2 linked regions of the Homo sapiens genome follow. The protein of the gene in region 1 binds, or shares a complex with, the protein of each later gene. Each region holds a gene or a part of one and is shown on either strand. Other genes may lie near its edges. A codon is read from its position in the direction of its gene.

The links.
Region 2: the proteins of RBSN (region 1) and RAB4A are in contact, whole or in part, in a crystal structure (PDB 1Z0K), measured with the Homo sapiens proteins. Residues at the interface, in NP_001289307.1 of Homo sapiens: Glu441, Gly442, Trp443, Leu444, Pro445, Ser447, Glu454, Pro458, Leu459, Gln461, Gln462, Asn465, Ile466, Phe469, Asp480, Glu481, Thr484, Leu485, Asn488, Leu492, Glu495, Gln499; in NP_004569.2 of Homo sapiens: Tyr10 (codon at 8,421), Leu30, His31, Ile34, Glu35, Ile46, Gly47, Val48, Glu49, Phe50, Gly51, Ser52, Lys53, Lys63, Gln65, Trp67, Arg74, Phe75, Ser77, Val78, Ser81, Tyr82.

The regions. Positions count from the first base shown.
Region 1 is NC_000003.12:15,092,215-15,108,230, forward strand, and holds the start of RBSN (rabenosyn-5), read right to left. Parts: upstream 6,935-16,016; 5' UTR 6,821-6,934; exon of another isoform or gene 6,808-6,820; intron 6,061-6,807; 5' UTR 5,905-6,060; intron 4,497-5,904; 5' UTR 4,321-4,496; intron 4,075-4,320; 5' UTR 3,907-4,074; coding exon 3,759-3,906; exon of another isoform or gene 3,457-3,758; intron 1-3,456. UniProt on the Homo sapiens protein: Rab4/Rab5 effector protein acting in early endocytic membrane fusion and membrane trafficking of recycling endosomes. Required for endosome fusion either homotypically or with clathrin coated vesicles.
Region 2 is NC_000001.11:229,263,511-229,279,787, reverse strand, and holds the start of RAB4A (ras-related protein Rab-4A), read right to left. Parts: upstream 8,678-16,277; 5' UTR 8,449-8,677; coding exon 8,418-8,448; intron 1-8,417. UniProt on the Homo sapiens protein: The small GTPases Rab are key regulators of intracellular membrane trafficking, from the formation of transport vesicles to their fusion with membranes.

The sequences.
Region 1 (16,016 bases):
GTTGCCCAGGTTCGCAGGCTGAGGGTGAGATTGATAAGAATACACTTGTCTTTTTTTTTTTTTAAGACGGTCAAGCCAATAAGCAAACTTCCTGATTATTGGTCACTGTGGGACAGCTTTGTCCAAACTGGAAAAATACTAAAACAAAAGGACATCCTTTAAAATGCACTAAAGTGGGTTTTTTTTGTTTGTTTGTTTGTTTTTTTTTGAGACAGAGTTTCACTCTTGTTGCCCAAGCTGGAATGCAATGGCAGCAATCTCAGCTCACTGCAACCTCTGCCTTCCAGGGGTTCAAGGGATGCTCCTGCCTCAGCCTCCCGAGTAGCTGAAATTACAGGCACGTGCCAACACACCCAGCTAATTTTTGTATTTTTTTTAGTAGAGATGGGGTTTCACCACATTGGCCAGGCTGGTCTTAAACTCCTGGCCTCAGATGATCTGCCCACCTCGGCCTCCCAAAGTGCTGGGATTGCAGGCATGAGCCACTGTCCCTGGCCTAAAGCAGTCTTTTCTAGTAACAGGGGAGAGAAAACTGCCTGATGTGAACAAAGGGTCTAGCAAACAGGAATGTGAGTTAGCAAGTAACAATTCATTTTTGCAAACAAGACTAAAGTATCAGGTTAAACAGGCAATCTATACCATTTAACCACTTTTAGGAGATAGAAAAACTGCCTGGCAATGTTCCCAGAAAGGACATAGCCCTTCCAGAGAAGGCCAATTAAAAATAATCCCATATATTTTAAAAAACACTAACAAAGCAAGAAGCCACAGTCAATTTTCAGCTATCTTTTCTTCTACTTACTGAAAATGGGCTAGACTGGAGCTGAACCAGGACTGGGCCCCGAACCCACTAACTTTTTACTAATGACTAATCTATCTTTTCTTTTTTGAACTGCCCCCAAAACCTAATACTAAGGTTCACTCTTTTGGCTTTAACTTTTCACTTGCCCAAAACTAACCATGTCATAACATTTCTAAGAATCAAAAGACCAAATGGAGACGTAATCTGCTTTCTAAAGGGCTTTTCAAAAAACCTTTCATGTCAATCCTTAAAACTTTACTTTCCTGATTCTGAAATGCAGAAAACTGCAACATAATCAAGAATTCCTTTCTAACTAAAGACATGATCATTAATAGTACTAGAGGTAGAGATGTCGGGGGTAAGGCAGGGTGGGAAATAAAGGGAAAAACCAAGAGGATCTTTTCTTTCTTTTTTTTGAGACAGTTTCACTCTGTTGCTCAGGCTAGAATGTAACAGCCTTGATCTCCTGAGCTGAAGCGATCCTCCCACCTCAGCCTCCTGGGTAATTGGGACTACGAGTGCGTGCCACTATGACTGGCTAATTTTTTTAAATGATTTTTTTGTAGAAATGGTCTCGCTATGTTGCCCAGTCTGGTCTCCTGGGCTCAAGCAATCCTCCTGCCTTGGCCTCCCAAAGTACTAGAATTACAGGCATGAGCCACCGCACCCGGCTGAAGTAACTTTATTTTGTTTTTTTGTTTTTGAGTCAGAGTTTCACTCTGCTGCCCAGGCTGGAGTGCAGTGGCATAATCATGGCTCACTGCAGCTTCAACCTTCCGGGCTCAAGGGATCCTTCTGCCTCAGCCTTCCAAGTGGCTAGGACTACAAATGCATGTCATCATGCCCAGCTAATTAAAAAAAATTTTTTTTTATTTTTGGACAGGATCTATGTTGCCCAGGCTGGTATCAAACTCCTAAGCTGAAGCGATCCTCCCGCCATGGCCTCCCAAAGTGCTGGGATTACAGATGTGAGCCACTGTGCCCAGCCAAGGATCCTTTCAAGTTTCTTTCACAAGGCACAAAATTTCTATTCTATTTAGTATTCCTTAAATAGATTCCCATATCTGTATTCTCTAAATAACCTTAAACATTTTTCCTCTTAAAAAAGGGTCACTGTAGGAATCCGGGAACATTCTCTAACCTCTCTACCCACTGGTATCACCAGGTTGAGCAATGGCATTGTATAGGACTTAGTTCAGCTGACACCAAGACTGGAAGCTAGTTGAAAATGATGGAAGCTCTTCGGTTGTCCAAAGGAAACTTACATAATCAGGTTTTTTAGTTTTGTTTTTGCTTCATTTCCCCCAGGAAGCTGCAATGCATGTTGTGATTGGAACACGGGGCCTCTCACCCTCAGTGATGTCACGTGCAAAGGGCAGCACTGGATTTACAGATGACAGAAGACCTACGTTCCAGGCCTAGCTCTGCCAATTCCTGTGTGACCGTGGATAAGTAACTCAACATCTCTTGAGCCTCACTTCACTTACTATCTGTAAAATGAGACCAATCACCTTCTTGCAGAGTTGTTAGGAGAGTCAGATGAAACAATAATGTCTGTGAAAGAAACTCTAAAAACTATAAAGCACAGCATTTTTTTCCCTCCTAATAGTTTTGGCTCTGTTCTATAGCCTCTACAGCCAGAAGCCACCTCATCCACCAAAGCCCTCAGGATTTCAGAAATGTTTGCCTTTGTTGTTTTTGGATAGAAGTTATAACTGTTTATGCTTTTAGAAACTCTTTTTTACTGAACAGAAAAGTGAGATAGAGTGAGACTCTAGGGACAAATATCTGATTACAAAGTGCATATGATTCACCTGTCTGAAAGCTGAAGTCCACTTAGAAATACATGATCATTCCTTTCTTTCTCTCCCAATAAAGACTTTGAATACAACATCCAGAACTCTTTAATCTCAAGGCCTTCAGAAATGCTGCCAGCTGTGAGAAGCAAGTTAGCTGAATAACTACAAAATAAGTTCCAGAGGAGCAGCATCTTTGGCGTGTGTGTGTTTGTGTGTGTGTGTGTCTCTCTCTCTGTTGCCCAGGTGCGAGTGCAGTGGCATGATCATCGCTCACTACAGCCTTGACCTCCCTGGGCTCAAGTGATCCTCCTACCTCAGTCTCCTGAGTAGCTGGGACTACAGGCGTGCACCATCACGCCCGGCTAGTTGTTTTTTTTTTTAATTTTTTTTGTGAGACGGGGTTTCGCCATGTTGCCCAGGCTGGTCTTGAACTCCTGAGCTCAAGTGATCTGCCCACTCTGGCCTCCCAAAGTGCTGCGAATAGAGGCGTGAGCCACTGTGCCCGCCCAGAGGAGCAGCATCTTATCTGGAGGTTAGAATTTGATGTCCAGGAAATACAATAAACATATGTATAGTGAAAAGTACCTTTGAAAAATTCTTTCCACAACTCTCTCAAACCTGAGCTCTTGGAAGCTCAAAAACCAAGGTTTTTAGGTTGTTTTGTTCTTCGACTATGACCTTCCTTTTTCTGGGCTATAGAGGGCAAGATACCAATTGGGGAAGGAAGGATGGTGGGAAGTCTTAAATTTGTGACAGGTAAAATGGGTGCATAATGTGCCTCCATCATCATAGCAAAGGAAAGAAATTCCTCTCCAAACCCTGTTAGGCTGGTGGTTAAAGAACAGTCAAGCCAGATCACAGCAATTACATTTACTAGACTCAAAGTCAGATTGTTTCTCTGAGTGGCTTCAGACAAGTTATCTAATCTCTCTGTGTCTGGTTCGAAATGTGGCTTACAGCCACACAGTTATTGTGAGGATTAAATGAAATTAATAAACAGGGAAACTCTGAAAACGCCTGGCACATGACAAACACTAGTCATCTGTTTGCTACTACTATTATCATATTCCTGTGGCAACACCAAAGCTGATGAGAACTATCCCGTGAGTTAAAGCTCTCAACGACAGCAGGGGATAGGCAAGGTCCTCGCCTCTTACTTTTAATTTGCCCTTTGACATCACGGTCTTCCCCTGAGTGTTCTTCCTCGTAATGTGAGTGAAGCTGATAGAAAGACTGCAGATCCTTCAGGCACAGAGGGCAGAGGAAGCCCTCCCTCACTTCCCCTGGGTCGTCCAGAGAAGCCATGGCAGTGCCGCTCTCAACCCTAGGAAGGCAGGAATCTCATGCCAAGAGTCAGCTTGATTCCTCCCAAGGAACCATGGTTCCCGCAGCATTAGCTTAAGCAGCACACAGATGGTGAGGAAGTGGCTTCATGGCCCTGGATGAGGTTTCCTCTCTGGAGTAGGAGGAGCCCTAAGAAAGAAAAGAAGAAGGGAAAAAAGCCAATTCAGGCAAACTGGTAGCAATTGAGGATTTTCTTCATTCTTTTCACAGTTCAATGGGGTACTTAATGTTTATTCAGTGCAAGTTTGAGAAAACAAACTCTTTCTCAAATCCTTAGACCAAGCAAGCTGCAAAACCTAAAATGTGAAAACATCACTGGAGAACAAAAACTCAATGAAGTGGGAAGCACAGATTCTTGAAATAAGCAAACAATACCTTGGCAATTCTCTTACATTCATTCCAAATGATCCAACTTCATAATTCATATGCCACTTCAGCCACTGGGGGAATGTCTGAAGTACTTATCAACAAGCAGAAGTTTTTACTTGATGCTCTTTACCTTGATTGTTTATTCAACCACATATAGTAAGTTCTTGATACTTGTAAGACACCTGTGTTAGAAATGCAAAGATGAAAAAGATATAGTATCTGCCATAAAAACATACAAAAAATCAAAAATCCTAACATCAGTTAAAGAGAAACAATAGAAACCTACTAGTCAAAAAGAAAAAATCTATTTTATATTTGTAGAGCACTTATCTCTAATGGGCGTACTATATTTTCCTTTTTAAGAGACAGCATCTTGCTCTGTCACCCAGTGAGCTATAATTGCTCACAACAGCCTCGACCTTCTCGGTTCAAGTGATCCTCCTGCCTCAGCCTCCTAAGAAGCTGGGACTACAGGAGTATGCCACCACACCCAGCTAGTTTTTAAATTATTTATAGAGACAGGTTCTTGCTATGTTTCCCAGGCAGGTCTCTAACTCCTGGCCTCAGGCAATCCTCCTGCCTGAGCCCCCCCAAACTGCTGAGATTACAGATGTGAGCCACTGCACCCTGACAGATCTTATAAGCCATTAAGTGACAGTTAAGTAGCAAACCTGATGTTCTCACTGCTTCAAAAATAAAAGGCTGGCCAGGCATGGTGGCTCAAGCCTGTAATCCCAGCACTTTGGGAGGCCAAGGCAGGCGGATCACCTGAGGTCAGGAGTTCGAGACCAGCCTGGCCAATATGGTGAAACCCTATCTCTACTAAAAATACAAAAATTTGCCGGGTGTGGTGGTAGGCGCCTGTAATCCCAGCTAGTGGGGGTACTGAGGCAGGAGAACTGCTTGAACCCAGGAGGCGGAAGTTGCAGTGAGCCGAGATCATGCCATTGCACTCCAGCCTGGGCAACAAGAGCGAAACTCCATCTCAAAAAAGTAAATAAATAAATAAATAAATAAATAAATTGATTTGGGGCCTAAACACTTCAGGGCTTAATAAGTTACATTCTCTTTCTTACTGGCTCATGGCAAAGTCACTTCCAATGTCACCTCATCAAGACACCCAGTCACAAGAGAAATTGAGACAAAACCATTCCACAAAAGCAGAGAAATTTCTCCCCAAGAACCTGGGGATACAAGCCACAGTATATAGTGAGGGGAGATGTGTGACCCTCAGCTTTGGATGGACTGTAGAAGACCACCGAGGAGGGACTGCCTGGTCCTCAAAGCTGAAGGGTGGCAGCAACTCAGAAAATAAACAAATGAGACACCAGGTCCCTATTTTTTCCCTCTAGTTAAGAAACCCAGTGACTTCATAACTTTTCCACTGGAATATAGCAGCCCTAGGTCTGGCCTGTTCCCTCCCCAGCCAGTGGTTCATCTGATGCTGACTCTGACAGCTCCCTTTCTTCCCATGCACTCACCCCTAACGACCACAAATAACACAAAGCCCACCACATCCATGCCACACAACCACCCTTCACGCCTCAGCCCAAACCCAAACCTCACTTCCTCAAAAGAAATGCCTCTTACTCAGAGCATCAGAATGGACTTCTCCTTCACAGCACTCATCTCAATTTATAACCGCAGGTACATACGTGAAGTGACCAAGTAAGACTGTAAAATCTGGGAGGGCACAGACTCTATATGTTTTCCACTTCGCCGTCTCCCCAGGGTTTAGCACAGTACCTGGCACACACAATGAAGCAGCACAATAAAGCTCCATGAATGAACGAAGAAATGAATGAACTCCAAAATCATATAACTAAGCATACACCATAAAGAAATCTAACACAACCACCGAATTGGACCCCACAACCATAACTGAACACATAAGCAAGCCCCTCGCACTCTAAATCACGTAAAAAGTAAAAAAAATAAAAATAAAAAAAATAAATATAGCTACATGTTCTGCAGCCGTACATCCAGCATGAATGTCACCCCGCCACATGCCGCATCGACGACACATCCCACAGCCGCACTCAACCCGGCCTCACGATCGCAACCACAACCCACATAACTAACATGATTATACACACATCGCATGACCACACACAACACGAACGACTCAATCCCGTGAAGCAGACATGACAACGTCACACATCGCACAGACACCACACAAAACACTCCGAACATCTCCACACGAACTCAGAATACAAACGCTTCAGCTTTACACAACCAGAGAATCAAACACAACCGCTCGGGAGACAAGCACCCACCCACTCCACCCACAGCTGCACAACCAAACCCAAGTGTATACGCCCCGCGTAACCGCACAACCACACAGAGCCCAATCATCAAAGGCACACACAAGCGAAACGCACGGCCTGAAAGCCCCATCTCCCACCTCTCACGTCACACCCACCACAACCACACACGGCCCGCCCGTCTCCGTTCTGGAGGAGTCGTGTCCCCGCCCCCCAGACTGGGCCTGACCCTCTGTATGTACCCTGCCGGGCTCCTGCGGGCACCCAGGTTTGTCCCCCCCTTCAGGCCCGGGCTCTGGGCCTCCACCGTCCGTCACTCAGCCGCAGCCGCCATCTCCATCGGTCGCTCGGAACTCGGCAGGTGCGCCTGCGGCGGCGACGAAACCGGAAGACAAGCTGGTAGACGCCTGTCGAGCGCCGAGTCTTCGAGGGCGCGAAAAGGGCGGATACGGATTCGAATAGTGGAGGGCGGGCCGGCGGCTTCTGCGCAGGCGCTTTCCGAACGAGGGAGGGGATGGTGGGGAGCGGAGAGAAAGTGGGGCTCGGTAATTTTGTGCGGTTCTTACGTCCCGAATTCGAACTAATAGCGCGTCAAAGCCAGCCAATGGCTCTGCACCGCCTTGTACAGGTGGGAAAGCTGAGACCAGTAGATCTTTGGCTCTTGACCAAAGTGCACAAAGAATAAGGCAGCCAAGGAATCAAAGTTCCTGAGAGCTAGAGACAGAAAAAATATTCAGGGGACGTGGAGGCGATGGAAAGTCCAAGAATAGAACCACATGAGAGTGGAGACTTGGTATGAGAAGGTGTATCCCGGGGTGTACAGCATGGCCAAGCCTGTGGAAAAGATGGCATTTTCAAAAGGCAGGACGATTGATCAGCCAGGACCTACCCCGTGCCTACGCTGTGCTGGGTACCACGGGGTATAGAGAGGCAAAACCTCATCCCAGTCCCGGAGACCTATTTGCTTTGTGCCCTGCACACGTTCTGGACCTTAGCAATAGCCAGCCTCTAGGAGCAAGAGCTGCAGAGAACGATGGGACGATGGGACGATCCTGGGCCTCCGTTTACATCCCTGCAGTGTTACTGGCCCCCTTTTACAGAAGTAAAATGGGGATGATAATGATAGTCTCCGCTTCACAGTGTTGTGAAGATTGAGGTAATTGCACGGTAGGTAGGTAGGTAGGAGGGTGTCCTGCATATTGGCTTTGCCCATCTCACTTTCCCTGCCTCCAAAAAGTCTTCCCCACCTGGTCTCTGGACAGGAGCACTGAGCCTCCATCACCTTCCATTTAAGGACATGGGGCTCCGGACTTGGAGAGCATTGAGTTTTTGGAAAGCAATCACCAGTGAAAGGGCAGTGAACTAGGGGTCTAGAGATCTGGGTTCTAGCCCTGGCTGTACGTTACTTTGTGGCTTTGAGCAGGTCCTTTCCCCTTTCTTCGCCTGAGTTCTCTCATCTGTACAAAAGAAATTGGCTCCAGTGACTTAGCCTTTTCTCTCAATCTGATGGCCAATTTTTTTTTAACGTTACAACATCTGCAGGAGCGAATAATGACTTCCCTTTGTTTACTGATGGAGACAAGGAAGAGGCTTCCTAACCTGTCAGAAGCAAAGCAACATGCCAAGCTCCCCGTCTCCATCACTAGCTTCTGCCTTAGGTCCCAAAAGCCAGGACTTTGGGAGTAAAACCACCCTTTTGAAAGTCTGAAGCCACCGAGGTCCCAAAACGAGCCACACTTACAGGCAGGACTATGTTTTGGGTAGGGCAATGAACGTTTATTAAACCATCATGATTTTTGCTTGTCATTTTATCATTTACAAAAAACATATTTGGTCGGGCGCGGTGGCTCACGCCTGTAATCCCAGCACTTTGGGAGGCCGAGGTGGGCAGATAACTTGAGGTCAGGAGTTCAAGACCAGCCTGGCCAACATGGTGAAACTCTGTCTCTACCAAACATATAAAACATTAGTCGAGTGTGGTGTCGCTCGCCTGTAATCCCAGCTACTCAGGAGGTTGAGGCAGAAGAATTGCTTGAACCCAGGAGGCAGAGTTTGCAGGGAGCCAAGATTGTCCCACTGCACTCCAGCCTGGGCAACAAAGTGAAACTCCACCTCAAAAAAAAAAAAAAAAAAGAAAGAAAAGAAAAGAAAAAAATATCATATTCATCATTTCATTTGCTCAAAAAAGCAATAGCTATGTGGCCTCAACTTGTAAGTTAATTCTGGAAATCACAGTGGATTGGGCACTGCTCTTGATATTGTTTCTTTTTTTTCTTTTTTCTTTTTTTTTTTTTTTTTTTTTTGAGGCAGAGTCTCACTCTGTCCCCCAGGCTGGAGTGCAGTGGCGTGATCTCAGCTCACTGCAAGCTCCGCCTCCCAGGTTTATGCCATTCTCCTGCCTCAGCCTCCCGAGTAGCTGGGACTACAGGCACCCGCCACCACGCCCGGCTAATTTTTTGTATTTTTAGTAGGGACAGGGTTTCACTGTGTTAGCCAGGATGGTCTCAATCTCCTGACCTCGTGATCCATCCGCCTCGGCCTCCCAAAGTGCTCGGATTACAGGCGTGAGCCACCGCGCCTGGCCGATACTGTTAATGATAATGACAAAGACCTTCCTATATGCTTCACACTTCATCAAAAGTACTTTCTTTAATCCTTTAGGCAACTCTATGACTATTTCCAGTTTGATAATAATAAAAATGACTAATATTTACTGAGGGATTTGCACATGCCAGACACTGTTCTATGTGCTTTCCATATCTTAACTCATTTCATTCTCACACAACCCAATGATGTACAAACTATACAAAATGTAATAATATTCCCATTCTATAGAAGGGAAGCTGAGGCACAGAGAGGTTAGGTGACTTGCCCAGGGTCACCAGCTGGTGAGCCTTGAACCCAGAGTCACCTTGCCTTGAGGCTTTCACAATCCCCACTTTTCCTTCCTCTGTGAAGTGCTGATAGACTTCCTGTACCTCCTCAGCTTCCTCCAGGCACCACTCCTGTACTGGGCATAGAGAGGGGATGTAAGCCAATTAGTTCAAAACAGAAATGTGCACGTGCACACAGATGCTCTGGTGTGAGAGGAGAGACCAGCAGAGTCCCCTGCAGGAATTCACGAAAGGTTTCCCAGAAGCGGGCAGCACGTGAGCATGGTCCTTGGGTAGAAACGATTGGGAAGGGCCTTCCAGGCCAGGGGAACAGCATATGCAAAGGCATAGTTATGGAGAAGAACATGAGTCCTTTGAGAAACTCACAGAAAAGTTCATTCACACATAGAGGGATGATATCAAGCCACTCCTCCTTGTTCCCAAAACTGTAGGCAGCCACTTCTAGTGAGAGAATCGTGGACAGCTGGGTCTCTTCACCCTTGCCCCCTGCCTTAGGGTTCTCTATCTTTCTGTCTCTCTATCCCTCTCTCTATCTCACTCTCTCACTTTCTCTTGGCCCTTATTTGTCTAAGTTTATCCCAAGCAGCACAAGACATCTTGGCACCACATTAAAATCCTTGGGCAAGAAAATAAATTATGATATGGATAACATAAACGTCATTGGGGAAGGTCTGGGCACATCATGTAACTTCCCGAAGGGCCAACTGCCCTCCAGGCTGGCCTGGCCCCAGCTCCCAGGCCTCTGCCAGCTGCTGTGGTCTGAGCCAGCGGGTTGAGGGCATTGAGGTTGGCACACCCTGTCTGCTGGCACAGAGAAATGAGGGTGATGACAGACAGCCTGGCAGAGCCTTGCCTGGAGGATGGAGGGAGGGTGTGCTGGGCTGGGCAGTGTCTGAGGGAAGCAGGTGGCAGTTGCTGTGGCCCTGTCAGGAAGGAAGCAGGGAATGAAGAAGGAAGAGAAAACGAGGGGAGAAAGGAAGAGGAAGAGGGAGGGAAAGAATGACAAGAAAAAAGCGAAGATGGAGCAAAAGTCGACCTGGGTTTGAATCCCAGCCCTGCCACCTGTGGCCACGTGAACCTTGGGCGGGTCACTTAAATTCTCTGAGCTTCAGTTTCCTTATCTGTGAAATGAGATAATTATAGTACTCACCTCTTAGGTTGGAGGGTTAAATAGCTTAATATTTGGAAAGTGTTAGAACAGCGCCTGGCACAGGGGAAGGACTATGTAAATGTTTGTTAAATAAAGAAAAAGGAAGAGCAGTGTAATTCACATGCCTTGGCTGTTGTGTTGCGCTGAGTCAGACAATAGCATGAGGGTGTGAGGATCCAATCTGGTGTCATAGAAATAGCTTTGAGAGTCATGGCCTTGCCAGATGGGATGTCTCCAAAAAGAACTCAGAATAGAATCACATAGCAACTAGATTCATTAAATCCAATAGTGGGTGGGGGAACAGCCTCAGCAAACCTGAAAAGCAGGAAACATGGAATTGACTTGGGAGATGTGAGCTTCAAAGCCAATCAGTTTGCAGGTAGCGGGCTGGCATTGTCTTTGACAAAGCAGGACCACTCCAAGCCCATTGGGGCCTGTGGCAAATGGGAAAGAGGCACCACTCCCTTCTCTCCCATGGACAAAACCTTGTGCTGGCACTCAAGCCCTGCATTTGGCAAATGGGGCACATACTGGATTTCAGCATCCACTTACCCCCACCCCCACCCTACTCCCAACTATGCTGCATACAACCTGCACGGTGGCCCTAAGTGCAGGGAGGAGGAGAATCAAGAGCACAGCATGGTCCTCAGGTCACGAGAAAAAGTCACGCTGGTTGTCTGCAGCTTCAGATCTCATTCCCTGACTTACATCTTCAGAGATACGCACCTTCAGCCAGTTGAGAAGTTAACCTCAATTTTAACCCAGATTTGAAACAATCTGTGTGTATATGGTATTTTAAGTATTTGAGGGATTTAAGAGTGTTTGGCATATTAGAGCATCTAACACATTCATCTCATGACTCCAGTTTAAAATCTGTAACTCAACAAATGACTTAGGCTTGTGATTTTAAGTTCATTCAACAAACTATGTATTAAGCACCTACCTACATGAGTGCCTGAGATAAACAAAACAGACATTGATCCTTGCCCTCAGGGAGATGACATTCGCATGGAGAGACACAGATCCTAAACAATTAATATACTAAATAAGTATGTTATATAGCACATTAGAAAATGGTAAGTACTATAGAAAAAAAAAACAGAGTAAAGAGAACAAGGAGTGCCAGGTTGCAGAACTTATAGCGTGGTCAGGGTAGGCCTCATTGAGAAGGCAACATTTGAGAAAAGACTTGAAGAAAGTGAGCCATGTGGATCCCTTGGGGAAGAGCATTCCAGGCAGAGGGAACAGCCACTGAAAAGTCCTCATGTGGAAGTGTGCAGGGCAGTTTGCAGAAAAAGTAATGAGGCCAACACCCATGTCCATAGCAGTATTATTCACAATAGCCAAACGATAGAGACACCTCAAATGTCCATCAACATGTCAACATAGAATAATCAAAAGAGTCAGCATGCGGTCTTTTTGTTGTTGTTGTTGTTTTTGTTTGTTTGTTTTTAGAGACAGGGTCTCACTCTGTCACTCAGGCTGGAGTGCAGTGGTGCAATCGTCCCACCTTAGCTTCCTGAGTAGCTGGGACTACAGATATGCACCCCCACACCTAGCTAATGAAGAAAAAATTTTAGAGGTGAGGTCTTGCTATGTCACTAGCTCAGAATGTAGCTTAAAGAGAGTTTAGTCAAATGCAAAGGTTGAGGACTGCACCCTGGGACTGCACACTTCCAAGTTGCCTTGGCAAATGCTCTGGAGAACAAACAAGAGGCTCAAGTTTTTAATGAGAAAAAGGATGAGGCTGGGCACAGTGGCTCATGCCTGTAATCCCAACTACTTGGGAGGCTGAGGCAGAAGGATTGCTTGCGGCCAGGAGTTTGAGACCAGCCTTGGCAATATAATGAAACCCCATTTCTAAAAAAAAAAAAAAAAAAAAAAAAATTGAGTTAGAAAATTAGCTGCGGCTGGGCATGGTGGCTCACAGCTGTAATCCCAGGACTTTGGGAGGCTGAGATGGGTGGATCACCTGAGGTCAGGAGTTCGAGACCAGCCTGGCCAACATGGCAAAACCCCATCTCTACTAAGATACAAAAATTAGCCAGGCGTGGTGGCTCATGCCTGTAATCCCAGCTACTGGGGAGGCTGAGGCAGGAGACTCATTTGAACCTGGGAGGCAGAGGCTGCAGTGAGTCGAGATCATGCCACTGCACTCCAGCCTGGGCAACACAGCCGAGACTCTGTCTCAAAAAAAAAAATAGAAAATTAGCTGGGCATGGAGATGTGCACCTGTAGTCCCAGCTACTTGGGAGGCTGAGGCAGGAGGATCACTTGAGCCCAGGTGTTTATTATTATTATTATTATTATTTTTTGAGACAGAGTTTTCGCTCTTGTTGCCCAGGCTGGAATGCAATGGCATGATCTCGGCTCACTGCAACCTCCACCTCCCAGGTTCAAGCAATTCTCCTGCCTCAGCCTCCCAAGTAGCTGGGATTACATGCATGTGCCACCACACCCAGCTAATTTTTTAGTATTTTTAGTAGAGACGGGGTTTCACCATGTTGGTCAGGTTGGTCTTGAACTCCCGACCTCAGGTGATCCTCCCGTCTTGGCCTCCCAAACTGTTGGGATTACAGGTGTGAACCACTGTGCCCGGCCAAGCCCAGGTGTTTGAGGTTACAGTGAACTATGATCATGCTATTACAGTCCAACCTGGGCAACAGACTGAAACCCTGTCTCAAAAAAGAGAGAGAGAGAAAAAGGACAAATCCGGAGAGCTTACAATTACAGAAGTTGTTCATCAGGAATTCTCATTGGTTTACAGAAATAACATTGGCTAATGATTGGCTACATATTGTTGAACTATAGGGTGTATGGCATTTGATGGCTACTTGGTGTCAGAGCTGGCACAGCCAAGTGGGTTCAAGAGGTAATTATTTAGCTCAAGGAGGAGTGAGATGCGACTGCTGTTACATTTTATTTTTTAATTTTTATTTATTTATTTGAGACAGGGTCTCACTCTGTTGCCCATGCTGGAGTGCAGTGGCGTGATCATGGTTCACTGAAGCCTCGACATCCTGGGCTCAGGTGATCTTCCCACCTCAGCCTCCCGAGTAGCTGGGACTACAGGCGCCTACCACCATGCCTGGCTAATTTGTCCATTTTTTGTAGAGATAGGGTTTCACCACGTTGCCCGGTTGGTCTCGAACTCCTGAGCTCAAGCAATCTGCCCACCTCAGCCTCCCAAAGTGCTAGGATTACAGGCGTGAGCCACCGAACCCAGTCTGCTGTTCCATTTAATTTAATTTAATTTAATTTAATTTAATTTTTTTTTTTTTGAGACGGAATCTCACTCTGTCGCCCAGGCTGGAGTGCAGTGGCACGATCTCAGCTCACTGCAACCTCCACCTCCCAGGTTCAAGTGATTCTCATGCCTCAGCCTCCTGAGTAGCTGGGATCACAGGTGTGCATCACCATGCCTGGCTAATTTTCGTATTTTTAGTAGAGATGGGGTTTCACCATACTGGCCAGGCTGGTCTTGAGCTCCTGACCTCAAGTGATCCGCCCGCCTCGGCCTCCCAAAGTGCTGGGATTACAGGTGTGTGCCACCGTGCCCGGCCTGCTGTTACAGTTTAAATACCTTTCTGGGCCTGATAATTTAAAGTGGTTAGCATTTCTCAGAAAAAGGTTTTCTTTCTCAAACAGATGAATGAATAAACAAAGCATGGTCTATGCTTACAATAAAATATCATTCAACCATAAAAAGGAAATGAATTTTGATATCTGATACAACATGGATGGATCTTTTTCATTACATTTAGTGAAATAAGTCAGACACAGGAGGACAAATACTATATGAGTCCACTTATGGTGAGATATCCAGAATAGTCAAATTCATAGAGACAGACAATAAAATAAAGGCTACCGGGGTGAGGGGAGGGAGAGTTATTGTTTAAAGGGTACGGAGTTTTTATAAGGGATGATGAACAAGTTTTGAGTATAGATAGTGGAGCTGGTTACACAACATTGTGACTGTATTTAATGCCACTGAATTGTGCACTTACAAATGATTAAAATGATAAATACTGTGTTGTGTATGTTTTACCACAATAAGCAAAGTAATTTCTGGGCGAGATGTCAAAGCCCTGGCAATGGTAAGTGATTGGCTCGCAGGTAGTTAAGAAGAGTTTGCCCACAACAGTATAGGATTGAAAGGGAAAGTTTTATAAGATAGAAAGAACCCTGCATCAGAGTGTGGCCGGCGCCTCAGCAAGAGAGGACTGTGTGAACCACAGTGGATTTTCCTCAGGGGCATTTATGGACCTTAAAGCGGGAGCTTAAGGGTAATTTGGACCATGTTAGCCACATCGGTCATAATAAATGGAGGCCGAGGCAGGAGAATCACTTGAACCCGGGAGACGGAGTTTGCAGTGAGCCGAGGTCGTGCCATTGCACTCCAGCCTGGGCGACAGGAGCAAAACTCCGTCTCAAAAAAAAAAAAAAAAAAGTTACACTTGTAGATATTTTGGTGCTTTGATGTCAGCAAGGGTTGCACAATGAGTTTTGACATGCATGCATTCGGAGATGTATAGAAATTCTGGTTTCTTATACATTTTGGGGAAGGAAGCAGGGTACTAGATACCAGCTTTAGATCATAGGGAAATCGAATTACTTCTGAATTCCTCAGATGAGGAGTGTCGCCTCTAGATGGTCTGCTTTGTGGCCACCAGGTGATCTTTGCTCTCCTCAGTGATGAGGCCAGTGTGGCTGGAGCAGAGGAAGTGAGGGAGAGAGTTTTGGGAAATCAGGTGTGAGAGCCCAAGGGTGAGGGGAGGTCATAGCCATTGAAGGGACTTTGGCCTTTACTATGAGTGAGGTGGGAGCTGGGGGAAGTGCTGAGTAGGGGAGGGACAGGATGTGACCTCTGACTGCTGGATTGGGAAGAGACACGGAGGTCGGAAATGCCAAGTGTGCATGGCACATAGTAAACCCTTCAGAAATTCAGGTGACAGGATGCATGTAGAGTCCCTGGAAGGAAACACCAACTGTAACAGCGGGCACCTCTGGGGAGGGAAACTGGAATGGTGGGGAGACTGACTTTCCACAACGTAGGCTTTTTTCCTATGATTTGAATGGCTTTTTTCCTCTATATGTATTTTTCTTAAAAATATCTAAATCAAAAAAATTAAGGAAAAGGAAAATAGGAGAAGACTGAAAAATCAGCAGAAAGCAAAACTGCGGATGGGGTCCCCAAGCCACCCCTTTCTCCAAAGTTGTTTCCCCTTCATGCACCTGTTTGCTCTTCTGCGATAAGGGAGGCACTTGACAGGCTCAAAAGCCTCATGCCCAGGGAAGTCGTTTGCCCCAACTCGTAGCCTCAAATGAACCCCCACTTTGCTCACAGTTGGGGGTGGGCCCCCTCCAGTTCTAGCTTGTGGGCTGTCTAGCAGG
Region 2 (16,277 bases), on another chromosome or scaffold:
AAGACCACACCCCAAAACAGAAAATCTAAAACAGATACATCCTACTAATGTACTTTTAACTTTCCGTATGAGAAAAGTCAAATGAGATAATAGGAAAGGTATCAAATAATTAGAATTCAATCTTGAGCAAATGTCAGCCATTCAGGAACACAGACAAAATAAAGACCAGGAAAAAAAGGTCTCCTAGCCACTGAAATAGCAAACATAAAGCCAAAAAAGATTAACTCTACAGGAGACACCTCATTTGGAATTGACTGACTTGTTTTACATTCACTTCAAGCAGCCTCTATTACCTAATGCCCCAAACTGCAGTAGATCAAAGGTATATACTAAAGTAGGACTGTGAACTACAGGCACAAAGGCAGATGGGGACAGCAGGGGATGAGCTAGAAAGTGGCCGTAATAGCACAGCACATTCTGTGCAGCAGTCAATAGTCAATGATGACCTTGAGTGTTCAAGAAAATTAAGCCATATTCAGCAGACACGATGACCTCTGCCTTCCTAGTTTTTTCCCCAAGCAATCGTCTTGCTTTCAAGATTTCCAAATGTCAGAAAGGAAGCACGGATGTATGGCCTCTGACTGTATGATGCATTTCATGTGTCCTACTTCCTGGCAGAAAAGGCTAAGTGCTGTGGTATAGCACTAGAATTTGGGTAGAATGGAGTCATTTAAAGAAGGTTTCCTTCTTTAGGAATTAAAGGCTTAGGGTCTGTGATTACGAAAACTGAGATAAGAGATGCTGAAGGTTCTGAGAAGGAATAGGCTTTAAGGTAAAATAATAAGTTGCCAATTCAGAGATTAAGTTGAAAATACCTGTAAGCCAACACAGTGGAGATTTGGGGAAGCAGTTCTTATAAGGGCCGAATATGAAAAGAGAAGCTAAGTAAGATAAAGGCTGCCAAGTGTCCACTGACTGATCATCAGCATCTCTGGTGAAACCAACATCATTTCAGGTGGGGGCAAAATCCTAATTACAGTCAGTTGAAGAATGAAGGAAGTAAAACTGTTGACAAAAAGTACTGACAGCTCTTATAAGCAGTTTAGCTGTGAGGGAAAGGAGAGACAGAGGTGGTTAAAGGAGGAAGGCGCAAAGTCAGGAAGCTACCAGTGGAAAGGGAAAAGGAGGGGAACAGACATGATGGGTGAAGTGGGGACTTGAAGCTTTAGAGATGGGGTCCAAAGTAGAAGGCTGGGGTTAGTTTTAAACAACAGAGACCTTCTGAGACAACATGGAAAGGGTTAAGGATGAGGTAAGCAAGTTTGCAGACATGGCATCTTTTCCTTACATCTACTGGTGGTCATCTACTAGGAGTGAGAGAATGGGCTTGAGGAGATGTGTGAAGGTTTAAAATAGCTGATGTGGAGAGAGAGGTGGCCAGGATAAGAAAAATGATTGCTAAGTATTACTGAGTACCCAGCTGGAAGCAGAGACCATACATCTGCAATGATCTCAATCTAAAAGGAGCTCTGTCTGCACAGCAGGCAAGGCAGATGGCTGGGTAGCCAGGGCTGGAGCTGTGCAAAGTGTGTGTAGTTGAAAGAAAAAGAAGGACGAGGTGGAAGGAAAAGCCATGAGTCTTATCTGAAGAGAGAGCAGCTCATTGCCTGAAAAGAAGAAAGGGGCCAGGCATGGTGGATCATGCCTGTAATCCCAGCATTTTGGGAGGCCAAGGTGGGTGGATCACTTGAGGTTAGGAGATCGAGACCAGCCTGGCCAACATGGTGAAACCCCGTCTCTACTAAAAATACAAAAATGAGCCAGGCGTGGTGGCGCACACTTGTAATCCCAGCGACTCAGGAGGCTGAGGCACGAGAATCACTTGAACCTAGGAGGTGGAGGTTGCAGTGAGCTGAGATAATGCCACTGCACTCCAGACTGGGCAACAGAGTGAGACTCTGTCTCAGAAAAAAAGAAGAAAGGGAGGAGATGGACCAGCAGCCTGAAGCTCTTACAGTGAAGACTGGATGGAGTTGGAGTGGTCAGAATGGGATAGGTGACAAAGTCCAGGGAGCAGTCAGGGAAGTGAGTACCTGAAGAGGTGGTAGAAGAGACCTGACTTCATCTTGACTAAAGTCAAGGAACTGTGGAGCGGAGTTGTTGATTGACCTCTGCAAGGACAATGCAGTGACCTAGGATCAGTCAGGAGTTAGAGCAAAGAGCAAGACCATATGATAGATGACCTTGTTGAAAAAGGACTATCCCCAGGGTCATCAGATAACAGCAACGAGGAGCTGGCAGAGGACAGAATATAAGATGACATGTACTTTAAAGGACAAAAAGTTTTGGTACAATGGTCAGGGAGGAATTGAACAGTGGGAACCTTGATGAAATGCTGGTTAGGAGAGGTGGAAGGTTTGGGCAGCAGAAGAGCACACGACCTGTAGAGGAGCGGGAAGAATAAGAAGTAAAGGAGGTGGAACAGGCAGCAAAAGCTAATCATGGGACTCTGCAGTGTGCCTGTAGGAGCCGCGGTTTACCTAAGCCTGAATTAAACGTTGTCGGCACAGCGGAATCCTGACGCTTGTAAATTTAACATTTGCAGCACAGACTCCCAACAATTGCTCCAGGTTCGTGATTGGGTCTTTGATTTTCCTGACCCATTCGTTGGGATCACACACACTGAGGAGGCTGATTTGAGGAAGGCAGTTACTTAGCAGGCCAACTCTTTGTTACTTTCCACTGATATAATAATAATTTATATAAATATAAATAATTATATATAAATTATAAATAATTATATATAAATTGTAAATAATTTATATATAAACTATATATATTATATATATCTATATTATATATAGATATATAGTTCTTCTAAAGTGGAAAACTACTCCCATCCTGGCCCAGGAGGCTCTTGTATCCTCATGAACCCAGGTTCCAGGTGCTGTGGAAGCTGCCTAGGGACAGTGGTGCAGATGCTGTGTGGCAAGCTGTAAGATAGTCAGCACAGCTGCTCAAGTCACTACGACGAAGAACTTTGGAATGAAACCCAATTTGCTTACCTTTTAATCATGTAAACTGGCCCTAATTTAACTTTCCTTTGCATCTTTCAGGGTAAACAGTAACTTAAACCATGTTAAGAAGTCAGCTCAAAAGACTCTGAAACCCAATAGATCCAGGAGGTAAGGATGGGGAAGAATTAAAAATGGACTCTAACTTTATCTTCTAGGCAAACACAGGAAAAATAGAAGATGGGGCATAGGCGTGAATAATTTGTTGGGTTTGGGACGTACTGCATTCAGATGCCTGTAGGCCACCCAGGTGTAGTTAGGTAGCTGAAAAAAAGATCTGTAGTTTGAGTGAAGGATGTGACTAGAAATATAGATGTTACAGTCATCAGAGCATCAGCAGTAAAGTCACAGGCATGGATTGGAATACTTTACAGTTCAAATGACCATGAGAAAGAATATTTTGTTTTTTCAAAAAACCATGCTTTCAAAGTTCTCGAGCATGGAGTCATTACATGCCTCCCTGGACCAACAGCACCTGCACGGCCCGGGAGCTGGTCAGATGCCGATCTCCCTCACCCTCCAAGTCAGGATCTACATTTTAATACACCAGGGGACTCGTGTGCACATTAGTTTGATAAGCCACTGGTGCAATGTTTCCCAAACTTTGGTACTTGAAATGTTCACCAGCTTTCAGTGAATGAGAAAAAGAAAATGACAAACATGTATAATCATATATTTATTCAACTTGAAGAAATGTCCTTTGTTTTGGTGTTACAGGATTCCTTTGTTGACATGTTTACCTGTTCCATCTTTCATGAAATTAAGGTAAAGGGCAATTGGGGTGATTTCCCTAAGAGCAAGTTATTTCATACTTTATTGGAACCAGGTGACTTTGAAATGCTATTTATACACGGGCACGGTGGCTCACGCCTGTAAACCCAGCACTCTGGGAGGCTGAGAAGGGCGGGATCATGAGGTCAGGAGTTTGGAGGCCAGCCTGACCAACATAGTGAAACCCCGCCTCTACTAAAAATACAAAAAAAAAATTAGCTAGGTGTGGTGGCGGGCGCCTGTAGTCCCAGTTACTTGGGAGGCTGAGGCAGGAGAATCGCTTGAACCCGGGAGGTGGAGGTTGCAGTGAGCCGAGATTGTGCCACTGCACTCCAGCCTGGGCAACAGTGAGAGACTCTATCTCAAAGAAAAAAAAAAAAAAAAAAAAGGAAAAGAAATGCTATTTCCTTTACCAAGGATATCTTCTTCACTTCATCTTGCCTTGTCATCCTAAATTTCTCATGAATCGTATTTTGATGAGCAAAGCCTATATTTTAGTTTCTTAGGGCTGCCATCACAAAGAACCACAAACTGGGAAGCTTAAAACAACAGAAGTTTATTGTCTCACAGTTCTGGAGGCCGGGCATTCAAATTCAGAGTGCTGACAGGGTCAAGGTCTCTCTGAAGGCTCAAGGGAAGGATCCCTCCTTGCCTCTCTCTAGCTTCTGGTGGTTGCCAGCCACCCCTTGGCACTCCTTGGCTGGTAGATGCATCCCTCCAATCTTGGCCTCCATCCTCACATCTCTTTCTCTCTGAATGCATTTGTGTCTAAGTTTCCCTCATCTTATAATGACACCAGTCACTGAATTAGGGCTCACCATAATTCAGTACGATGACCTCATCTTAACTTGATTACATCTGCAAAGACCTTATTTCCAAATGCGGTCACATTCACAGGTACTAGGGGTTAGGACTTAAACAGATATTTTGGGGAACACAATTCAACCTGAACAGCCTAAAATGATACATTTTTAAGGAAAATATTCTGATAATTCTCAAAATTATATGGCAAATACTGTAATACTGTGCTGTTTTCAAAATGAAGCACAAAATAAAAACATTAAGAGTATATTTTAATAAAAATGAGCATAGAACCAGCAATTTGAATTGTATTCTTCTGTTTCATTTGTTATTCCCATTGTAGACGGCATAAACTCTAATATATGTAGAGATTTTGTATTAGATTTTTCCTCACTCTCGAACTGCCCCAGCACTTAATTTCAAAAGAAATTCCTGGCATTTTCCCACTACATATACTTTTCAGCTCCTTTCTGAACATCGCTGCTTAGCATCAAAATTACTTTCAGCCAATTTGTAATCTCCCAGGTCTCAGATGGCTGAAGCAGAGTTCCTTGGGAAGTCCCAAGCCATACTAACTGGCCAGGGCTTTAAGAATGTAGTGTATCTAATGGCATTTGGTAGAACTGTTTCATATTCAGACTAAGGGTTTCATCCAAAACCTAAGATTTCAATTTGTTTCACGATATTACATAAAGTACAGTATTCATGTGGTGACTTCAAAGCAACAAAAATGTTCAACACTACTCAGTCTATGGAAGGTGAAATACTGTTTTAATATGTTAAAAAGCATATTAAATGAACACATTAATGAGAGGTAGCTCATAAACAGTACATTTCAGCAGGGCACAGTGGCTCATGCCTGTGATCTCAACATTTTGGGAGGTGGAGGCACGAGGATCACTTGAGCCCAGGAGTTCGGGATGAGACTGAGCAACAGACAGAGACCTCGTCTCTACAAAAAAAATTAAAAAAAAAAAAAAAATTAGCCAGGTGTGGTGGCATGCACCTGTGGTCCCAGCTACTCAGGAGGCTGAAGTGGGAGGATCACTTGAGATGGGGAGATGGAGGTGGCAGTGAGCCGTGATTGTGTCACTGCACTCCAGCATGGGTGACAGAGCGAGGTCCTGTCTCAAAAAAAAAAAAAAAAAAAAAGGGAAACAAAAACCCAGTACATTTCATTCCTCATCTCTCTGTCAAGCTACACAGAGCCTCCTTTTACAGAAGAGCAAATAAGCACAGAGTACAAAGGAGTTTAAAGGTTAGGCAAACATTCCTTCACCAGCTCAGAGGCAAATGTCCAGAAGAGAGCCTGACTGTTTCACTTTTAAGGAACAATGCTGTATAAATATGGCCACTGATACGTCAAAGTGACAGCCTAGGACTTGGTTCTAGGTGACTTTTACTTCAGCTTGGCAAACTTCAACTGTCCTGCTTGCTCCTTCTAAAACTCATTTTCTTTTTTTGAGACAGAGTCTCACTCTGTTGCCCAGGATGGAGTGCAGTGGCACAATCTTGGCTCACTGTAAACTTCACCTCCTGGGTTCAAGCAATTCTCATGCCTCAGCCTCCCAAGTAGCCGGGACTACAAGCGTACCACCATGCCCAGGTAATTTTTTGTATTTTTAATAGGGCTGGGGTTTCGCCATGTTGGCCAGGCTGGTATTGAACTCCTGAGCTCAAGTGATCCGCCCAACTCGGCCTTCCAAAGTGCTGGGATTACAGGCGTGAGCCATCACCTCTGGCCTCATTTTCTATTTATTAGTTTCTACTAGTTTTCGATTAATTTCCTCTATTAGAAGAAAAGATTCAATTCAGAGTTGCAAAGTAAAAACATACTTGGAAGTTACCATGAAATAAGAATACTAATGGTCAAAGCCTTATGATCAGAATGTAATCAATCTGTGAAGCTCAAAAGTTCAGTTAACTGTGTCTGAAGTGGAGATGCCAAAGATAAGCTCTATTTTATCAGTTGTTATCATGCGTATACGAAAAATGAAACATAAAAGCTCTATCTCCTGAACTCTTCCAATCCTTTCTTACTGATTCATGACCCCCACTTGCTTTTCTTATTTGGACATTCCACCCTTCCCCTAGTGCTCCGTGCTCCTTACTCAGGTTAAAGAAACTAAGCCTGGGCTAAAGAGCACTTGAAAATAAAGAAGTGCAAAGATGTAACCAAAAATTGCTAAAGACCATGTTTTCCTTACAACATTTCTGACTGTGGTTCTCTACAGGAAGAACCAGACCACTGCCATTTGCAGAAACATTTGCAAACACTTGTCCTGATGAAGGCATCGACTTACTGGAGGATTTCCTACGCCTTCTAGGAACAGATGTCATGCCCCTTTGTCACCAAGAACAGGGCAGTACCAGTCACAGGAGTCACTCACTGAAGGTGGACCAAATGCACTGTGACCCCAGCATGGAAGCCCTTCCAAAAGTTCCCATTTTTTCTTACAAGACAAACTGACGCCTTCCTCAAGACCCTCTCCTCTCTGCCTCCTCATCCACCTCTCCAGCGTGGTACTCAAAACACACCCTTCTTGAGTTACCCTTCCCACAGGCCTGAGATGTTCTGCGTGCTGCCTGGTTAATGCCTCCCTGACACCCCTGTCTGGGTCATCTTTCTTTCTAACACACTTTCACGGACCACACTCCTTCAGAACTCTTGCCTGGTTTTTAATTATTCACTCATTAGTATCACAATTGGATTAATACTGCATTCCCTCAATAGACTACGCTCCATGAGACCAGAGCCGTGTCTGCTGTGTTTCTGCAGGATGTACAGCCCTCCCAGCACGGTGCTCGCTTCCCTAATGCCATTCCACAGTATTTGTTGCAGAGAAGGAAGCAGCATGCCAGGACAGATGGAGACAGGACTAATTTGGCTTGAGGTATGTAATTTTGAACTTGAGCCTCTCTCTGGGACTGTAAAACTCCAAATCAAAGTCTTAATCTGAGAATACATACATCTGAAAGAGTGATTAGGGACTGGTAAACATCTATTAATATTCAACTCTGATACAAAGTACAAGTTGTTTATTCTTACCACGCAAGGCCAAAAAAGGGGAGAAAAAAAAAAAAGCACACAGCATATGCACTGGGAAAGCTTTCGCTTATTCAAAACAGTATTTGTCAAGCACCTCCAGGTCTGGGTGCTGCAGGGGAAACAAAGATTAAACAGCCAGGGCTTTGCTTCCAAGGTGCTTACGGTCTTAAGAAGGAGACAAGACATGTTTATAAATAGCCAAAATGCAACCCAGAAAAGGCTAAAAAACACTGAGAGGGAGGGAGAAATAAACGAAGCAAGAGGTCTCCGGAGGAAGAGATGAATGAATTAGCCTATTAATAACTCCTCACTGTAATCCCAATGTAAAGCAAGGAATTCCAAACCAGGAAAGGTCAAACTGAAGTATTTGAGGAACACAGGCGTCGCCCTAAGCCCTTCACAGGCTCGCTGGGGATAATATCGCAGCTGAAACCGAACATCAAGCTGGCTTTTCAAACCTTCAGTTATTTACATTAGACTGAGAGGGGAAAAGCGCTAAGAGTGCAAGAGCAGAGAAAGAGCAAGAGGAAACTTGAAAAGGCGGATCACGCCAATGCGCTGTGCACAGCGCCCCCGCGCCCCGCGCACCCGCTACCCCACCCGAGCCCCCAGCGGCCCGCGTCCCCCATCCCGGTCCCAAGCCCAGACACCTCCGAGATCCGTCCCCCGGCTCCGGCCGGCGCCACCGCCACCCTCAAGACCCCCGCAGCCCAGGCCCGGCCCCGCGCCACCGACGCCCCCCGCGGCCCGACCCGCGCGCCCCGCCAGCCCGGGCCTCGTACCGTAGGTTTCGGACATGGCCGTCTGCGACATCTTGGGAGCGGCGCCGCCTCTCGCCGGGTCACCGGCTGCACTCGCCCGCGGTCCGCCGGCGCGTCTCGGTGGGGAAGGACCTGGGGCGGGGGACCGGAGGAGGGAGGGGCCCGACCGGTCCCCACGGCAACCGCCGGTCTCCCAGCGGCTGCGGCCCAGCCGGACTCCAGCTCCGCGCAGGCGCAGGGCCCTCCACCCTCCGTCCGGCCGCGACCGCGAGGAGGAAGAGGAGATGGGCTACGCGAGGCCCGGCCCACCCCGCGTTCGCGCGTGCGCACGGGGAGGCCGGGGCGGGGCGCGTGAGGACTTCGGCGCGCGCCGGAAGCACGTGCGCGGGCTGGGCGCTCTGGCGGTGTGCGCTGAGGTGGGCAGAGCGGCAGGTGGGGGCGTTGGGGGCTGAGTCCCGATTTCCCTGAGGGAGGGTCGGGTAGAGGCGGGCGGTGGGCAGGTTTGGGGGTGACAGAGGGCTGGGGACAGTGGGGTCCAGTTGCCGGACAGAGGAGGAAGGTGCCCGCACTGGGGAGGAAAGCAGTCCATTTGCCAAATTGGCCCGTCTCAGTTAAGACGTTGTCTTCGGTCATCATCTGCGGCTGTCAGCCAGGAAAAAACTTCCCTGACGCTGTTACGATGGAGGCCAGAACTTGGTTAATGTGTAACAAGGAGGCAGTAGGCCCCAGGTGTCCAGCCAGAGGCCGCCCTGTGAATGGGAGGCAGGTTCATTTACCCGTTGGGAAGCTAAGCTTTCACTCCAAACTGCCGGGCCCTCTTGGATGGAGCTGAGCGGGTGTGGGCGGAATGACAGAAGCGCAAGATGCCCAGGTGCTAAAAGGTCATCGCAAGACTACAGGCTGCAGCCTCTCCACATCCCATTTTAGAGGGTTCTGGATTACGGTTGAGAAGTATCTCCCGGCCCTCAGCTGGGGATGTGTTTCCAAATTTAGGAGTTTTTTTAATTTTTATTTTTTAACAGGGTCTGGCACTGTCAGCCCAGCCCAACCGATTCTCCTGCCTCAGCCTCCTGAGTAGCTGGGGCTAGGGGCTCACACGACCACACCGCGCCAATTTTTAAATTTTTTGTAGAGATGGGGTCTTGTTATGTTGCCCAGGCTGGTCTTGAACTCCTGAGTTCAAGCATCCTCCCTCCTTGGCCTCCCAAATTGCTGGGATTACAGGCATGAGTCATCTCACCTGGCCTTGGATAGTTTGGTTTCAGAAGCAAAACTGAGTTAGAATCCCCTTCTGTGGGAAATGTAGAGATAAACATTTATGGGAAAGAGAATTTTGGTTGAGGATTTGGCCCATCTGAGCTTGATCAGGGCCACATAGCGCCTCATAGTTCCCAACCTTGTTCACAATAGGTAGTCGAATGCTCAAAATATCCTTGGCTAAGCTCCCAAGTGACCTGGACTGTGTGGAAAATGCCAGTACATACTTTTGTGTGTGTGTGTGTGAGTCAGTTTGGCTCCATCCTCCACATAAATTGGCATCAGAGCTTCCCTCTTCCCCAGTGGCTATTTGGGTCGGTATTTTTCTCTTGTCTCCGATCCTAATAACAAATAAATGCAGTTTTTTCTAAATCACAGAGAAGGCCCCATGGTGAAAAGTTGTGACAGCTGTAATTCCTAAAACTGTTTTATATATATTTCTTGTTCAGTGGCTCAGATCATTTGTTGCTTTCTTGTTTGTCTCTCTGCATGTCGTGTTTGATTTAGGCTCCTGAGTATAACAGATTGGTTCTGATTAAAACCATTTCAGAGGAAAGACAGTGATCCCAGGAAGCGGGAAGAAAACAGCATCACCTGAAGTTATTCCTATTCGTTAGATTTGTTTTCTTCCTGCGAAAAACTGCTATGTACAAGAAAGAAGTCAGTGAGCTGCAGTGATAGTTAGCATTATTGACTGAAACTGGACCAGAGATCCCTGAAACCTGGACAAGGTGGTAGAAATACAAATTATGCTGCCATTTCAAAGCTGTGGGCAGTTTTCTACTTTGTGGAAAATGAAGACTTAGGTAGGCCTTTGGGAAAGACGATTTGTTTTGGAAAAACCACCCAAAGGGATCATTTGGTTTGCAAATGTAACTGCAGTATCACAACTGGAAGAAGAAATATACAAGGGCGAGGTTTGAAGGAGCCCTTCAGTATCCTTGGATGATACTGTGGAAGATTCTTTGCATCTCAGTAACTTTGGATCTTTGAAGATCCAAGAAAATAAATTTCTTCAAAATATTTTTAGAGACTGCTTTGATTCTGAGGCACTGCTGATTATATGGAAGAAAAAAATATTGGAAGATTAATTTGTGGTTTTCTCCAGTTATCGTCTCCCTTCTCTTTGGGGGAGGTTTGTGACGCAGTAAAAACAGATATACAAAAGCCTAGGCATGTTAGAGATTTGCCTAAGGGAAATGTAATTATGAAGAAGGATTTTTTCAAGCTGAAACTAGATCCCACTTTTTTCCAGGTCAGTGGGTCCTTCAAGTATCTGGTACTTTCCTTCCTGCTTCCTGACAATGTTAAAGAATGTGGCATGACCTTACATTTAATGCCCAACGTGAGGAGCCCTGGGGCTTGATGCATGAGATTCTTGGAGCTAGGCCTGGTGGAGGGCACTGGTCACAGCCTCGGTGGAATGGTGACTTTCTTTGGTAACTGGAATTGAAGAAAATGAGTGGACTTGTGTCTGAGCACTTGGGAACTCAGCAATCCCTGGGTGTTACCTTGAGAAGGAGCCAAATTCCAGACATACAAGTGGAGACTTGAAAATGGAAGCTCAATTCCACACCCAGGCTGGTGGAGACTATGACATATAACTCACATCTTCAAGAAAGTAGACACCTCAGAGGTCACTGGGCCACTTTACCTTCCACTGTCAAAACTATGTCCATGATCAGATACCTCTGTTGCTAGGGAATATTCAGTCAGAATGGGCTAGATTAACTGCAGTAATGCAGATCTCTCAACCCATTTATGACTTACGCAGCAAAGTTCCTCGCTCAGACTACCTGTCCACTCCCACGAGCAGAGACTTGCTCATGGGCCCTCCTAGACCCAGGCTGACCGAGTGTGTTTTATCTAAATGCATCTCCACAATCACTCAGGTAGGAGTGGCTATGCATTAGGACTGATTGTGCATTAGTTAGAGAAGCACTTACCAGGAATTGCTATAAGAACTTCTATTTACATTTCATGGGCCAAAGCAAGTCATGTGGCAACACTTAATTTCAAAGAGGACAGGAAATGCAATATTGTTATGTCCCTGAAAGAAAGGAGAAGAGAAAGTCTATGGAAAGACATTATGACTACCACTGGAATTTTCACCTGTCCAGGCAGCTCATCGTGCTTTTATTTGAAACAATTTTATTGAAGTATAGGCATAACTGCACATACGTATGTATTTATTTTATTTTATTTTTTGAGATGTAGTCTTGCTTTGTTGCACAGGCTGGAATGCAGTGGCGTGATCTCAGCTCACTATGACCTCTGCCTCCCGGGTTCAAGTGATTCTCCTGCCTCAGACTTCTGAGTAGCTGGGATTACAGCCACGCGCCACCACACCTGGCTAATTTTTGTATTTTTAGTAGAGACGGGGTTTCGCCTTGTTGGCTGTGCTGGTCTCAAACTCCTGACCTCAGGTAATCCGCCTGCCTCAGCCTCCCAAAGTGCTGGGCAGCCTCCCAAAGTGCTGGGATTACAGGCGTGAGCCACCGCACCTGGCCTGCACATATTTAAAGTGTACATTTTGACAATTTTTAATATATATGTACGCTTGTGCTTGCTGCTCCAGGGGACCGCTATTTCTAGGCCTTTTCAGTGGACAGAGGCATTTTTGTGATTGTTTTATCTCATTTGTCACTTAGGAAGAATAACTTCTTGTGAGGTTTAGTGGTGGTTTTGGGGTTGATAGTATAGGTCTTCATCACAGTCCACCTCCAAGTGATAATACACTACTTTATACAGAGTATAAGAAACTGACAACCATTTGCTTCCATCCTCCCCCAGCATCTGTGCTGGGGATGTTGTACTTCTACATATGTTGTACACCCACATACATTGTTATTGTTTTTACTTAATAAGCTACTAATTCTCTGTCTCTCTTTTCCTTTTAATTGTGGTAAAATAGACATAAAATGTAGCAACTCAGCCATCTTGAAATGTACAGTGGCATTAAATATATTCCCATTGTTGTGCAACCATCACCACCATCCATCTCTAGAACGCTTCATGTTGCAAACCTGAAACTCTGTACCTGTTTAACAACAACTCCCCATTCACTTCTCCCCACAGTGCCTGGCAACCACCATTTTACTTCCTGTCTAGGAATTGGCTTCTCTAGGTACAGTACCTCATATAAATGGAGTCATACAGTATTTGTCTTTTCCTCACTGTCGTATTTCACTTAGCATAATGTCCTCAAGATTCATCTGTAACATTGTAGAATGTGTCAGAATTTCCTTCCTGTTTAAGACTGAATACTATTCAATACTTTGTACATATATACTGCATTTTCAGCCAATTCTTTTCAATAGATTTAAACAATAAGAAAAAAGTGTTTTATATTTACTCACATAGTTACCATATCTAAGACTCCTTATTCTCTTGTATAGATTAGATTTCCATGGTCTCATTTCCCTTTTGTCTGAAGGGCTTTCCTTGACAGATCTTGAAGTGTAGATCTCCTGGTGACTAATTCTTTCAGCTTTTATATGTCCAAAAAAGTCTTTATTTCACTTCTGTGTTTGAAGCTATTTTTGCTCAATTTCGATTTTTAGGGTTTTCAATTTTTTTTTTCTAACATGAAGATACTGTTTCAGTGTTTTCTGGCTCATTTTGTTTCCGATAAGGAGTGAACTGCCATTCTTATCTTTATTTCTTTTATGCAACGTGTCTTTTATCTCTGCTTGGTTTTAAGATTTCATCTGTATCACTAGTCTGAAGCAATTTGATTATGATGTGCCTTGGTGTTGATTTTCTTTAAAGTTCTTGTCCTTGAGTTTCACTGAACTTCTCTGGTCTTTGAGTTTATAGTTGCTATCAGATTTGGAGTTTTTTCAGCCATTATTTCTTCAAATATTTTTTTCTGCCCCTGCCTCTCCTTTCCTTTGGCGATTCTACTACACAAATATTAGATCACTTGAATTTGTTTCACAGCTAACTCAGGCTTTGTTCATTTTTTGTCAGTCTTTTTTCTTTCTGTTTTTCATTTTCGTGTAATTTCCATTGCTGTGTCTTTAAATTCACTCATCTTTCCTATAGTATCTAATCTGCTGTCAATTCCATCCAGCGTATTTTTCGTCTCAGGCATTGCCATTTCACCTGCAGAAGTTTCACTCGGTGTCTGGACCTGCATCTGGGTCCTCTGGTTTCCGTGTTTAGTGCTCAAGCATATGGAACATGTGTCATTTCTACTAACTTTATCACCTAAGTAATTTCTGAGATTGTTTATATTGATTGGCTTTTCTCTTCATTGTAGGTAATATTTTCCTACTTTACAAGCCAGATAATTTTTTATTGAATGCCAGACATTGAGAAGTTTACTTTGAGATACATATAATGTTTATTTTTATGAATATTTTTGAGCTTTGTTCTGGGGTGCAGGTAAGTTCCTTGGAAAGAGCTTGATGCTTCAGGTCATGTTTTTACACTTTTTTTAGGGGGTGGGCCCTGAGCAGCATTCTACTCAACAAATCCTTGAGTTGTGAAGGTTTTCACCATGATTGGCGGAATTCGGAGTTCCTCTGGGCCGTGCGTGAGTGCTGGGGATTGTTTTCTCTAATATTCGCTGGTGATTCTTTATCTGGCATGGGGTAGGAGTGCCTACCACAGTAGGAATTTGAAATGCAGGTATTTCTTCACTTGCCTGCACTGCTCAGTAAAGACTTGAAGGGAACCCTCTGCAAACCTCTGGCACTCTCTCTCTCTCTGTACAGCTCTGCACAACCCCCAGCTCAGGGAGTGCTGCTTCTTCCTCCTGTCTGACTCCAGAGCTCAGTCTGTGGCAGTCTTTCTCTGCAGTCACTTACTTGCTCATTCATTTCATCTGGTCTTAAGGCTTTCAATATGATCTAAAGCTGATGATTCCTTAATTTCTAGCTTGCCTAGGCTTCTATGTACAATTGCTTACTTGATACGTCCACTTGAATGAATGCCTATTAGGTTTCTTAATACTAACGAAATAAAAACCAAGGCCGGGCACGGTGGCTCACGGCTGTAATCCCAGCACTTTGGGAGGCCAAGGCGGGTGAATCACAAGATCAGGAGTTCAAGACCAGGCTGGACAATATGGTGAAACCCTGTCTCTACTAAAAAATACAAAAAATTAGCCAGGCATGGTGGCGCGCACATGTAGTCTCATCTACTCAGGAGGCCGAGGCAGGAGAATCGCTGGAACCTGGGAGGCAGAGGTTGCAGTGAGCCGAGATCATGCCACTGCACTCCAGCCCGGGCGACAGAGCAGATTCCGTCTCAAAATAAACAAACAAACAAACAAACCAAACATCCAGATTTCTTGACCAAACCAGTGCCTTCTGCAATCTTTTGTATCTCAGTAAATGGCAGTTTGCCAGGTGTATTAGTCAGGGTCGGGGTTCTCTAGAGGGACAGAACTAATAGGATACATGTATATATGAAAGGGAGTTTATTGAGGAGAATTGACTCACACGATCACAAGCTAAAGTCCCATGATTGGCTGTCTGCAAGCTGAGGTGCAAGGAAGCCAGTGGTGGATCAGTCCAAGTCCCAAAACCTCAAAAATAGGGAAGCCGACAGTGTAGCCTTCCATCTGTGGGCAAAGGCCCAAGAGGCCCTGGCAAACCACTGGTGTAAGTCTAAGAGTCCGAAAGCTGAAGAACTGGGAGGCTGATGTTCAAGGGCAGGAAGCATCCAGTACGGCAGAAAGATGAAGGCCAGAAGACTCAGCAAGTCTGCTTTATTCTAGCCGCTCTGGTAGCCGATTAGATGGGGCCCACCCAGATTGAGGGTGGGTCAGCCTCTTCCGGTCCACTGACTCAAATGTTAATCTCCTTTGGGAACACCCTCACGACACACCTAGGAACAATACTGTGAATCCTTCAATCAAGTTGACACTTAATATTAAACATCACACCAGGGCCAAACCTTGGGAGTCCTGCCTGACTTCTCACACCCACATTTGATCCATCAGCAAGTCCTACAGGCTCTACTGTCAAGAGCATCCAGAATCTGCTTTTGCTACTCCCACTGCCTCACCCCCGAATCCTGGCCACCTCCTGGACCAGCCCGCCTCACCTCTCTCCTGCCTTTTGCAGCTACCTCCCCTTCCTGCTTCTATGCTTGTCTCCCTGTGTTGTCTTTTCTCAACACAGCTGCTAGAGCAATCCTATTAAAATGTAAACAAACAAAACCAAAAATAAATGACAATTCTCCTTTAAAACAGCCAGTGTTGCCTGTAATCCTAGGACTTTGGGAGGCCAAGGTGGGTGGATCATTTGAGGTCAGGAGTTCGAGACCAGCCTGGCCAACATGGTGTAACCCCCCAACCTCTACTAAAAATACAAAAATTAGCCGGGCGTGGTGGGGGCGCCTGTAGTTCCAGCTACCTGGGAGGCTAAGGCAGGAGAATCGCTTGAACCCGGGAGACAGAGTTTGCAGGGACCCGAGATCATGTCACTGCACTCCAGCCTGTGCGACAGAGCGAGACTCTATCTCAAACAAAACAAAACAAAACAGCAACAAAAAAACAGCCAGTGTTGGGGGGAGGAGGGGACTATAGGTCCCATCAGGCCACCCTCTGCTCAAAGCCTCATCTCACTCACAATGGCCTATAAAGTCATCCATGGTCTGCTCCCCCAACCC